Homo sapiens: one gene and its partner. The protein of the gene in region 1 purifies or fractionates together with the protein of each later gene. This does not show direct contact. Each region holds a gene or a part of one and is shown on either strand. Other genes may lie near its edges. The genes, in order: MAU2 and SMC1A.

Region 1 (7,289 bases):
AATACAAAAATAAGCCAGGTGTGATGGTGCTCGACTGTAATCCCAGCTACTCGGGAGGCTGAGGCAGGAGAATCCGTGGAACCTGGGAGGTAGAGGTTGCAGTGAGCCGAGATCACACCACTACACTCCAGCCTGGGCAAGAGAGCAAGACTTCATCTCAAAAAAAAAAAAAAAAAAAAAAAAAAAAATTACCAAACAGGCTGACAAGCAAAACCTCCACGTGGGAGACGTGGGCAGTGGGAAGGGATGGATGACAGAGACATGCAATTTTTTTCTGTTTTGCTTCTCAGCCTTTTAATTATGAACATGTCATATTTTATAATCTAGAAAAATAACTTTTTTTTTTTGAGACGGATCTCACTGTGTTGTCCAGGCTGGAGTGCAGTAACATGATCACAGCTCACTGCAGCCTCAACCTCCTGGGCTCAAGTGATCCTCCCACCTCAGCCTCCCAATTAGCTGGGACCACAAGCATGAGTCCACACACCCAGCTAATTTTTTTGTTTGGTTTTTGTAGAGATGGGATCTCAGATCTACTATGTTGGTCAGGCTGATATTGAATTCCTGCGCTCAAATGATCCTTCCACCTCTGCCTCCCAAAGTGTTGGGATTACAGGCCTGAGCCACTGTGTCTGGCTGGAAAATATCTTTTTTTTTTTTTTAAGAGATAGCATCTCTAGGGCCAGGCACAGTGGGTCATGCTGTAATCTAGCACTTTGGGAGGCTGAAGTGGGTGGATCGCTTGAGCTCAGGAGTTCAAGACCAGTCTGGGTAACATGGAGACCCAGTCTCTACCAAAAATAAAAAAATTAGCTGAGCATGGTGGCACACACCTGTGGCCCCAGCTACTTGGGAGGCTGAGGTGGGAGGATCACTTGAGCCTACAGGGGGTGAAGGTTACCACGAGCTGAGCTGAGATCATGCCACTGCGCTCCAACTTGGGTGACGGAGTGAGACTCGGCCTCAAAAAATAAAATTAAATTAAAAAAAAAGAGGGTCTCACTAGGTTGCCCAGGCTGGTGGTCTTGAACTCCTGGGATCAAGGGATTCTCCCCCATCCACCTCCCAAAGGGATACAAGCAATGAGCCACTGTGCCTGGCCAAAAATATCTTTTTTTTTTTTTTTGAGATGGAGTCTTGCTGTGTTGCCCAGGCTGGAGTGCAGTGGTGGGATCTCGGCTCACTGCAAGCTCCGCCTTCCTGGTTCATGCCATTCTCCTGCCTCAGCCTCCCAAATAGCTGGGACTACAGGCGCCTGCCACCATGCCCGGCTAATTTTTTGTATTTTTAGTAGAGACGGGGTTTCACCGTGTTAGCCAGGATGGTCTCGATCTCCTGACCTTGTGATCTGCCCGCCTTGGCCTCCCAAAGTGCTGGGATTACAGGCGTGAGCCACCATGCCCGGCCTTTTTTTTTTTGAGATGGAGTCTTGCTCTCACCTAGGCTGGATGGAGTACAATGACACGACCTCGGCTTACTGCAACCTCTCTGCCTCCTGGGTTCAAGCAATTCTCCTGTCTCAGCCTCCAGAATAGCTGGGAGTACAGATGTGTGCCACCACACCTGGCTAATTTTTGTATTTTCAGTAGAGATGAGGTTTCACCATGTTGACCAGGCTGGTCTTGAACTCTTGACCTCAAGTGATCTGCCCACCTCAGCCTCCCAAAGTGCTGGGATTACAGGCATGAGCCACCGTGCCTGTCCCAAAAACATCTTTTTTTTTTTTTTCTGAGACAGAGTCTCACTCTGTTGCCCAGGCTGGAGTGCAGCGGCATGATCTCCGTTCAATGCAACCTCTGCCTCCTGGGTTCAAGTGATTCTCATGCCTCAGCCTCCCGAGTAGCTTGGATTACAGGCGTCCACCACCACGCCCCACTAATTTTTGTATTTTTAGTAAGAGACAGGGTTTCACTATGTTGGCTAGGCTGGTCTTGAACTCCTGACCTCAGGTGATCTGCCCGCCTTGGCCTCCCAAAGTGCTGGGATTACAGGCGTGAGCCATTGTGCCTGCCCAAAATATCTTCTTAAAAAAAAAAAAAAAAAAAAAAAATTCAAGACCTCGTGAGATCAGTGGGTGAGAGTAGGCGAGGAATTGACAGGAAGGACTGAGGCGGCCAGTCCCACCAGAGACTGGCTGACCTTGGGTGGGGACCAATCCCAGGGGCCACTTGTACCCTGAGAGGACACTGTGTTGGCCAAGGATGATATGTTTGGAAGTCCGGCTGAGAGGAGACACCTCTCTGCCCCTCAGGTGTCAACACATAGCATGGGGTGGCTGCGTCATCCCCAGTAGCTCAGGGCAGCTCCTTTGGTTCTGGCTTCAGCTCCCCTGAGCCCTGGGGCTCTGCCTGCCCAATGTCTGAGGCCACACCCATCAGGCCTCCTGCCTTCCCCCCACACCCTCTGTGGGTGCCCAGCTCCTCTGGCCCTGCCTGCCCAGGCTGTGGGAGTCAGGGCATCCACCTAGACGTGCTCTTCGAGGGGCATAGGATGAACAGTGCCATGCCACCCTTAGGGTGCTGGCCGGCTCCTGTCCCTCAGCCAAGCCCCACAGGCACCCAAGCGAGGGGCCCAGGCCAGGGCACTCACCCTGTGGTTTCCCAGCACATAGAAGATGTGGCCCAGAAGCACGAGGGAGCAGGCTGTGAGCCGGTTCAGGTCCTCAGCATTGGACATCTTCAGAGTTTCCCGCAGAAATCGCCTGACAAGGAGAACATGGACGCTGATAACTGCAGGACGGGGCCTGGGCTACCCTGAGCATGGCCCTCACGCCACCCTCTGCCCCACACTTACTTGGCCTCGTTGTAGCGTCCCTGGAAGAAGGAGAAGAGCCCACGCACATAGAAGGCGGCTGCTCGGAGGCAGTGCGAGCTGCAGGGAGAGTGCAGTATCACATGGGGTGGTGATTTTGAGAAGCAGGTTTACAAAACGGCAGTGGGCAGCTGGGGGCTATTTCTGAGAGCCCCCACTGCAGACTGTCTGTGAGGAGGGGTATGGGGTGTCAGGGTGCAAGGGGCAGTCAGGGGCCCCAACCAAAGAGCACGGGGAGCCTAGGCCGTGCGTGGAGTGGTGCCTGGAGCGGCTCACCTGACAGGGAAGCTGTGGTCCGGGTTGATCCTCTCCAGCAGACTGTAGAGCTGCGGGGGAAAGAGCCAGTCAGCACCATTCTGCATCTTCACAGGAGAAAGGTCCCCAAGACACACTGCAGTGCATGGGAATTTCTCTACACCCCCGTCGGGACTGTGGCCTCCAGGCTGAGCCTGGTGACTGACCAGCAAGAGCAGCCTCTGGTGAGAAGGGCCGGGGGCAAGATTTCCACACCCTCAGCCAGCCCTGCCTGTGCCACCCTGTCCTGCAGTAGGTGACAGGGGCCTGGGCGTCCAGAAGGCCTTTGTATGGTCAGAGTGGTGCTGAGGGGCTGGCCTGGCAGTGGGTAGGTTGGCAGGCTGGGGCCCGTGAGCCCTGTGGGCTGTGGGGGTGAGTGGGTGGGATTTCTCTGGAGGTGCAGGGACCCCGGGAGGCTCTGATGGGGGCGTGATCTGACTGATAATTTAGCTGCCCTCTAGCTGCAGAGGCACAGGGGAGCCAAACTCCTCCTCAACACTGCGAGCCCACGTATGGCATCGGATGACTAAGCCGGGGCTGGGCTTTCTTTTTCCTTTGAGACAGGTTCTTGCTCTGTCGCCCAGGCTGGAGTGCAGTGGCTGGATCATGGCTCACTGCAGCCCTCAATCTCCCTAGCTCAAGCAATCCTCCTGCCTCAGTCTCCCGAGTAGTTGGGACCACAGGCCTGCACCCCACCAAGTTTTTAAAAAATTTTTTTGTAGAAATGGGGGTCTCCCTATGTTGCCCAGGCTGGTCTTGAACTCCTGACCTCAAGTGATCCTCCTGCCTTGCTTCCCAAAGTGCTGGGATTACAGGTGTGAGCCAAGCACCTGGCCTGATACACTTTGGAGGTAGACCCCCAGAGGTGAAGGAGATACTAGAACTGAGGGACATCCTAGGGCTGAGGGGGATCCCAGGGCTGAGTGGGCATCCCAGGGCTGAGGAGGGAATCCCAGAGCTGAGGGGGATCCCAGGGCTGAGGAGGGGATCCCGGGGCTGAGGAGGGGATCCCGGGGCTGAGGGGGATCCCAGGGCTGAGTGGGGATCCCAGGGCTAAAAGGGACAGAAGAGGGAACCTAACTCTTATGCAAGCATTGGTTCAGAAGCGCCACGTGAGGGCAACCCTGGGCATCCCCACCCAACACTGCAGCCAGTGAGTGCCCCTGATCCTGCAGGGGCATCAGCACAACCTGGGGACAAGGTGCTCTGGCTGCTGCCCCTTAGGACTGAGCCTCAATGCCTGGCCGACATCCTAGAGCAGACAGCTTGGGCTATAAGACCTTGTCTGTGTGATTCATACAGCTTGGTTTGTTTGTGATAAAGAGAAGTGTTCTGTGGCTATGGGAATGTTTTTGTCCCAGACCTGGCCTCCCCCGGCCATAGCCCGATTCACCTCTGGGTCGCCTTGTGTGTCTGTGTCGGGTGCCGCCCATCCCTCAAAAGGTGAACACCCTGGGGTCTGCTGAGATGTGCTGGTGCCCAGGACAACCCCCTGGTTCCCCAAAAAGAAGAGAACAGAGAGAAAGGATACCGAACATGAAGCATGTCACCTACTACCTCTTGGTGTCTATTTCCTTCCCGTATATACACACTCGCCAGGTTGGTGACGATGAAGGCCCACAGCTCCTGGTGGTTGGTGAGCTGGAATGGGAGGCGGGGACATTAGGGGGCTGGGTCGGGTGCTGTGACCCATGTGGCAGTGTCAGAGCACCCACAATCTCCACGGAGACTACTTTGGAAAAGACTTGTTCTTTTCATTTCAAACACACTTGTTTTGCCTCCTAAGCTCAAGGATAACACAGCTATTACTTCTTCTCATTATAAAACCATCATCTGCGTTACGGGGCAGTTAGAGAACACAGAAGAGGAAAACCAGCCACCCCAATCCTACCCTCAGAACATGTCGGGTTTTGGTCCATTTTCCACTGTCTCTCAGGACTGAGACCTGGTGGACCCTTCCTCCAGGCCACAGCCAGCAACCTGTGGGACCCAGGTGTCCACTGCCATCAAGGCATATGCTGGTCCTAGGCGGGGGTCACTCTTCATAGGGGGAAGTGGGGAAGAGGGGAGCTGTTGTCCCACAGGGGGCCAGCACAGGCCCCGCTCCAGGTAGGTGATGCTGTGTCAGAGACCAGAAATGCTGCTGATGACAGGTGGTGGATGGGCCATGGTCCCTGGCTCTTCTTGGCAAATGAGATCGTTCGTCAAGAGAGGGTCCAATCTATGTAGCTCAAGCCCTGCTCAGACCCTGGTTCCCAGTGGGGCTGGGCAAGAGGTGGAGTGAGCCCAGGAAGCACAGACCCCACCTGCACAGATCCCCTCCTGGCACACACCCAGGAGGCCCAGAGGATCTTCCGAATCAAGCACAGATGCTCTGAGACGTAGCAAGGTGGGAGATGTTTGTTTCAGGGCCACAGGAGGCGTGTGTGTTTGGGGTTAGGGGTGTTGGGGTTGCATCCTGGCTCCATCACTCCTGGGTGGGCCATGAAAAAGAGGCTCTCTTTTGGCCTCGGGGTGAGGACTCCTTAGGGTACATGGCCTTGGGAACTTTGACGCGGAACCAAACCAGCAATAGCAACCACTTGTGGGGAGTGAGACGGAGACGGAGATGGCAGGATGGCAGGGCCACGAGGAGGGTCCTGGCCCTGCTGCAGTCAGAGTGAGCCAGGGTCCTGGGAGCGAGGTGAGGAGGCAGAGGAGTGGGTGCTGAGTCAGCCCTTCCCTCCCAAGCATGCTGTCTGCATGTCAGGGCTCCTGTGCATCTCTGAGGCCAGTGGCGGGGGTGGCAGCACCCACAGGCCTGCGGGGTGCCGTGGAATGGGAACCCTGTCCAACAGTCAGGGCGCACACAGGACTCCCTGGTGACCTTGCCCGAGTGGCAGACAGAGCAGCCTCTGCTCCCTGACACCTCTCCTCAGGGCCCTTCCTGGCACCACCAGGAAAAAGGTGTCCACAGCCTCCATTTCCTGTGAGGAGGTTGAGGCTGAGGTGGGGACACAATGGTCCAGCCCTGGGCTGGGGCGCTCCGTGAGGATGTGGCACCAGCCTTCTTCCAGGGCCTGGCGGGGCCCCCGTCTAAGGCCAGGAGCCTGGGGTGCTGCTTCACCCTCTCCGGCCCAGCAGGACCAAGAGTCCTCCTCTGTCCAAAGAGCACCTGGGAGATGGCCCAGCTCCACCACTCCCCATGGGAGCCCTGAACCCAGGATGGCTCTGAGTTGTCAGCTGACACTTGAGCCAATCCAGCCTTGGGGGTGGGTGCCGCAAAAGTTCCCACTCAGGCATGAAAGTGGTGTCCCCGGACGCGTCGCACCTCTCCCTCACGTCTGCCCTTGGGTCAGCTCAGGAAGCCCCTGGCCCCATAGCTGTCCCTTATCCAGATAAACAGCGCGTCACTGCCAAGGCTGGCATGGGCTGACTACTGTGCATTGCCTCTGGGGCTGCGGCTTTGCATAGCTGACCTAGCGCGACTGCTGTCCTCATCACAGACCACGCCCGACTCCTTACTCAGAAGTGTGGCCCGCCCCGAGCAGCAAGGAGGGCCGGCACCTTACCCGCAGGGCCGTGGTGAACTGGGCTTCCGCGTTGTCCATGCAGTTGACAGAGACACAGTACAGGCCCTGGAAGAAGGTGGTGTTGTCATCAGGGCCGGCCCCTGGGGAGGGGGCTCAGATCAGAGACACGTGGTGTGCCCGGGGCCTGCACGGCTGCCCTGGAGGAGTATGACAATGGCTCTACCGAGCCAGCTGCAAGGCAGGTAATATGCTCACTGTCCCCACCTTTCAGACCCAAGCCAATGTGGGGTGGGACAAGATGCTCACTGGGAGCATTCCGGATCGTGCCTGGGAAGGTTATATGATTACCTATGGGAACATTCCGGATTCTGATTAGGGTGCTGTCAGGGGGTCCTTCACTGGGAATGTTCTGGATCTGGTTAGGTACTTACTTACTGAGAACATTCTGGATTCTCCCGGGGTGTTGTCACAGGGTTACTCACCAGCAATGTGTGCAGCTGTGCTGCATGGTTGGAGAAGAGCCGGGGGGACTGCTGGCACAGCTGGCAGACCTGGGAGATCTGCCGGGAGAGAGTGTACTGCCATCACAGGACTGCAACCTGGGACCTGGCGTCTGAGCAGCAATGGAGAGACCCCATAGCTGGTGGGTGAGCCCATGTCCTGTCTGACCAA
Region 2 (4,295 bases), on another chromosome or scaffold:
AATTCTAGCTGTAGAAACTTGTGCAAGTTACTTCACCTCTGAGCCTAAGTTTCCACATCTGTAAAAGGAGATAATAAACACCTACCTTGCAGTAGTGAAGCAAAGAGAAAATTAAATATATATGAAGCAATTTGGCTGGCATCTAGATCATTCACAGCCCTTTAAAGGTCACCTTTGCTGTTCTCCCCACTTTACAGATAAGGAAACTGAGGCCCAAAAAGGTTTGAACCCAGGTCTTCCAAGTCATTCAAGTGCTTTCTCCACTGTACAGGTGGTTATCAACCTTGGCTGCGCATCAGAATCGTTTGTAAAGCTTTTTCTTTTTCCTTTTTAAAAAGTAAAGCAATATATACACAGGTAAAAAAATAAAATAGTACAGAAGGGCTTATAATGAGAAGCAGCAGTTCCCTGCTTGCACCCCCACATCCAAAGGATGTGGAGCTCTTTAAAAATAAATTGCTCTGGTCCCACCTCTGGAAATCTGATTCAGCCAGCATGGATAATAACCCAGATAACTAACCCCTACCTCACAGGATAAAAAGGATTACATGAGATGCCTTAGGCTAAGGCCCTGGCACACAGGAACACATGTGCTACAAAGGAGCTTTGGGGACTTAAGTCCTGAGGATCCAGGAGGTGAGGTGACTTGTCCAAGATTCCACTGGTTTAGTGGCAGAGCCTAGACTTCCACTCGGATCTATTTAGTGCTTGCCCCCTGCTCTCTCCTGTCGTGCCCCACCACCTCCTGGCATCACAGGGCAACCGTTGTCAAGGCTATGCTCACGGGAGGCTGGGCACCACAGTGTTTCCAAGAGCAAGCTGGATCCGAGTAGATTCCCTAGGGCTTGTTGGAGGAACTAGTTTGACTCCCTTATACTGTGGACGCAGTAGCCTTGCTGTAGGGAGTTGAAGAGTACTCCACAACAGTATCTTAAGTTTAACTGGGCACTTCCCTCTGGAAATCACAGTGTTGTGCACCAGGAACACAAAGATGAGTCAAATCTTTATCCTGCCTTTGAGGAGCTCACTGTTTAGTTGGGGAAACCATTTGTAAAACAGCCATTAACCATACAGTGTGATCAACACTGACAGGAGCACAGGAAAAACATCTAGCTTATGTGAAGATTCAGAGAAGGCATCCTGTAGTCTAGGTGGTGATACCTGAACTGAGTCTTGAGGGACGGGTAGGAATTAGCCAGTTGAGGAAGTAGAAGGAATTTCCAGATATTGGAAACAGTATGCATGAAGACATGAAGGCAAGAAACAGCAAAACAAATACTGAAGCATGAAGATTCCTGGGGTGGGGGGAAAGCAGCAAGAAAAGGTAGAGAGGAACCAGATTGGAAGAGGGTCGTAAATGCATGGCTACAGAATTCAGATTTGTTTTGTAGGACAGTGTGGTTCCCAAACTGGCTGTATACCACAAACAGGTACGGCATTCTGGGCCCCGGCCCCTAAAACATTCATTAAGTCTGGGGTGAAGATTTGGAATCTTGAATGCTTATAAAGGTTACCACATGACTAGGGTACAGCCAGATTTGGAAACCATAGCTTGAAGGCAGTGAGGGAGCCATGAAATGGTTTTTAATAGGGGGACTCCAGATCAGATGTGAACTTAACCTGTTTCTGGCTGGCTAGCCAACCAGCATGGAAAACAGATTAGGTTAGATGTTCATGCTGTATGTGCCCGTGCCTGTAGCTTCCCTGTTAATCAGCTTCTTACACTACTATATTTGCTTATTTTGTCTCTGAATAAGCTTTAGGCACCACAAGGGTGGGCCTGGGGATATTTTGCTTACCAGTATAGCCCCTGCAAAAAAGCACAGTGCCTGACACAAAACAGGCACCCAGTAAAGTTTTTGAATGAATGAATGCATGAGTGAATCCATTTGTGAGAGAGCGAATGGAGATGACAAGATTAGCTAGGAGACTGGAAAAAGACCAGGAGGCCTGCACTAGGGCAAAGGCCAGTAGGAATAGATTGGAGGTGTTAAGGTGTGAACTGTTAAGGTAAGATGATAACTTAATGACTGATTATTGGATGTGGAGGGTGACTGAGAGGATAGAATGAGTACCCATGAATAGCCATGATTCCTACCCTGTCCCAGTCATCTCTTTCCTTATCCATCTCTGAAACAATCTGCTTACATCCTCCTCAGCAACTGGAATTCCTCAAGTTAGTTAGACATTCTGTGTGCTGTGTGGTCTCTCACTGCCCCCCCACTCCCCACCCCTCCACAAGCCATTGATTCATTCATCCAGTTCAATAAATCTTGGCTAAGCACCTCCAGTGTGCAGTAAGGCTCTTCCAAGCCAGGACTCTGACTCCCTCTTTCCTACCTCAAGAGATGTTTTTGAGGGCTTTCCCAGGTAAGAGTCACATCTCTTATACAATAACTTATAGTGAGATACCCAGAATGTCAGACTTGTAAGGGAAGACTGCCCAAACCCCTTCTGAGGTCCTCAGAGGGGAATTAACTTCCTAAGGTCCGACTGCTAGGAAGTGTTGGAGCCAGAAATGGAAGCTAGGTTTCCTTTCTATGTCATCTCTGGAGTCTTGATCTTGATCTATCCCATTGTAGATCAGGACAGGCAGAGGTGGTCAGGGAGAAGGTGGGACTTAGGTTGAACCTTGAAGGTCAATGTATTGGACAGGTCAAACAAGATGGTTGCCAATTACACTGCCCCCTTCTGGAAACCCTTAGCAAACCTGCCATGCTTGCAGTCCCTTCTAAGGGGTTTCCTTAGCATAAGTTGCCATGCTCTGTACCATGTGACCTCACAATCCTGGCCACAGATAGCTAGATGTGGATAGTGTCTGGTTCAAGGGCAACCAATCTCTAGGCTGGCCAGTGGCCTGTTAGCTGGACTGGCATAAGGACTTCACCTTACAGGGGTGGCATGTATCAAATGGCAAATGTATGAAACAACCAGATCTTTCAGGGAGGCAGAATGTGAGCTATTCAGAAGAAGTGAACGTTAATTAGAATTTAATGAGGCATTAGTGGTGGTGGATGAGGGGTGGCCAGAAACTAAACAGCAAAAGCAAAGAGAAAGCTGCAGAAACCATAAGTAAGCAGAGGTCATGAGACATTTGTATAATGAGATCACGGAGCCACAGGGTGGCAGAAGCCATGAAGCAGCAAGGCAACAATGGGCTAGAAGCCATGAAGCAATAGGAGCCACGAGGAACAGAAACCGTGAGACAAAACTGACTATGAGATCCACAAAGCAGCAGAAGGCTTGAATAGATAAGATCATGAGACAGTAGAAGCGATGAGACTGCAAGAACCACAAGGTAGCCAGAACCATGTGGCAACATGGCAACAGGAATGGAAGAGGCAGCAGGAGCTACAATGCAGAAAAGCCATGGATTAATAGGAACTGAAGCGCCGGGAGCCATGAAGCTGCAGGACCCATGAGGCAGAAAAAGCCATGGGCTAGCATCGAGGGGGGCAGAAAGAAGTTAGTCAGTAGCAGTAGGAGGAGTATAAATACAGCCAGAAAGGAGTTGAGTCACCAATTTGGGAAGCACTAGAGAAGGGAGCAACAGATGCCTGCAGCTGAGGGGGTGACAAGATAAGCCAGGCTCTAGAGCTGCTTTGGATCATGAACCATTTTCAAGTTTCTGTTCTTCCATGAGGCTGCCTGTGTAGCTGTTCTTGTCTTCCTTATTTCCCTGTGAATGCTTTAATAAATCCCCATCACTAACCTGTGTGTGTCTTTGTTCCTTGGAATCTAAAAGGTTAACACTGGTGTGCAGTTTAGATAACAGGAAAGCAGGGCAAGAGGTCTTCCTGGTGGGGTTGAAGCAAGACACAGAGGTGGGAATTCACTCATCCTTTCCTGCCTCACTGGCATGGGCACCTTTCATTCACTTACTTATTTTTATCATTCATTCATCCACTCATTTATTTATTACCTTATATATGCACTAACTCACAACTTCACTCACTTATTCATTAATGCATTAATGTAAGCATTTACCAGTTCATTTGCTCTTTCCTGTATTCACTCATGCATCATTTTTCCATCCATTTGTTCAGCAGGCATATGTTAAATTCCTGTCATGTGTCAGGCCCTGTGCTAGGTTCTGGGAATTAGATATACATGCCCTCCAGGAATTCTTGGCTTAATTGGGAACTCAGATAAGTAAGTGGTTAAGCACACTAAGTGTGGAAGATGATATAATGGACGTCTAGGTGAGGCAAAGTGAGCATATAGGAAGTATTAGGTGGTTCTCCCTGGGGTGGGAAAGCCTTTATAGAGGATGGTACACTTGAACTGAGTCTTGA

Evidence for each region.
Region 2: the proteins of MAU2 (region 1) and SMC1A purify together in Homo sapiens (affinity purification with mass spectrometry; 2 studies listed by BioGRID and IntAct, with this or other methods). This does not show direct contact.

What each region holds. Positions count from the first base shown.
Region 1 is NC_000019.10:19,344,737-19,352,025, reverse strand, and holds part of MAU2 (MAU2 chromatid cohesion factor homolog), read right to left. Parts: intron 7,178-7,289; coding exon 7,100-7,177; intron 6,723-7,099; coding exon 6,657-6,722; intron 4,747-6,656; coding exon 4,660-4,746; coding exon of another isoform or gene 4,656-4,659; intron 3,138-4,655; coding exon 3,088-3,137; intron 2,872-3,087; coding exon 2,794-2,871; intron 2,702-2,793; coding exon 2,590-2,701; exon of another isoform or gene 2,585-2,589; intron 1-2,584. UniProt on the Homo sapiens protein: Plays an important role in the loading of the cohesin complex on to DNA. Forms a heterodimeric complex (also known as cohesin loading complex) with NIPBL/SCC2 which mediates the loading of the cohesin complex onto chromatin.
Region 2 is NC_000023.11:53,373,565-53,377,859, reverse strand, and holds the end of SMC1A (structural maintenance of chromosomes protein 1A), read left to right. Parts: 3' UTR 1-3,711; downstream 3,712-4,295. UniProt on the Homo sapiens protein: Involved in chromosome cohesion during cell cycle and in DNA repair. Central component of cohesin complex. The cohesin complex is required for the cohesion of sister chromatids after DNA replication.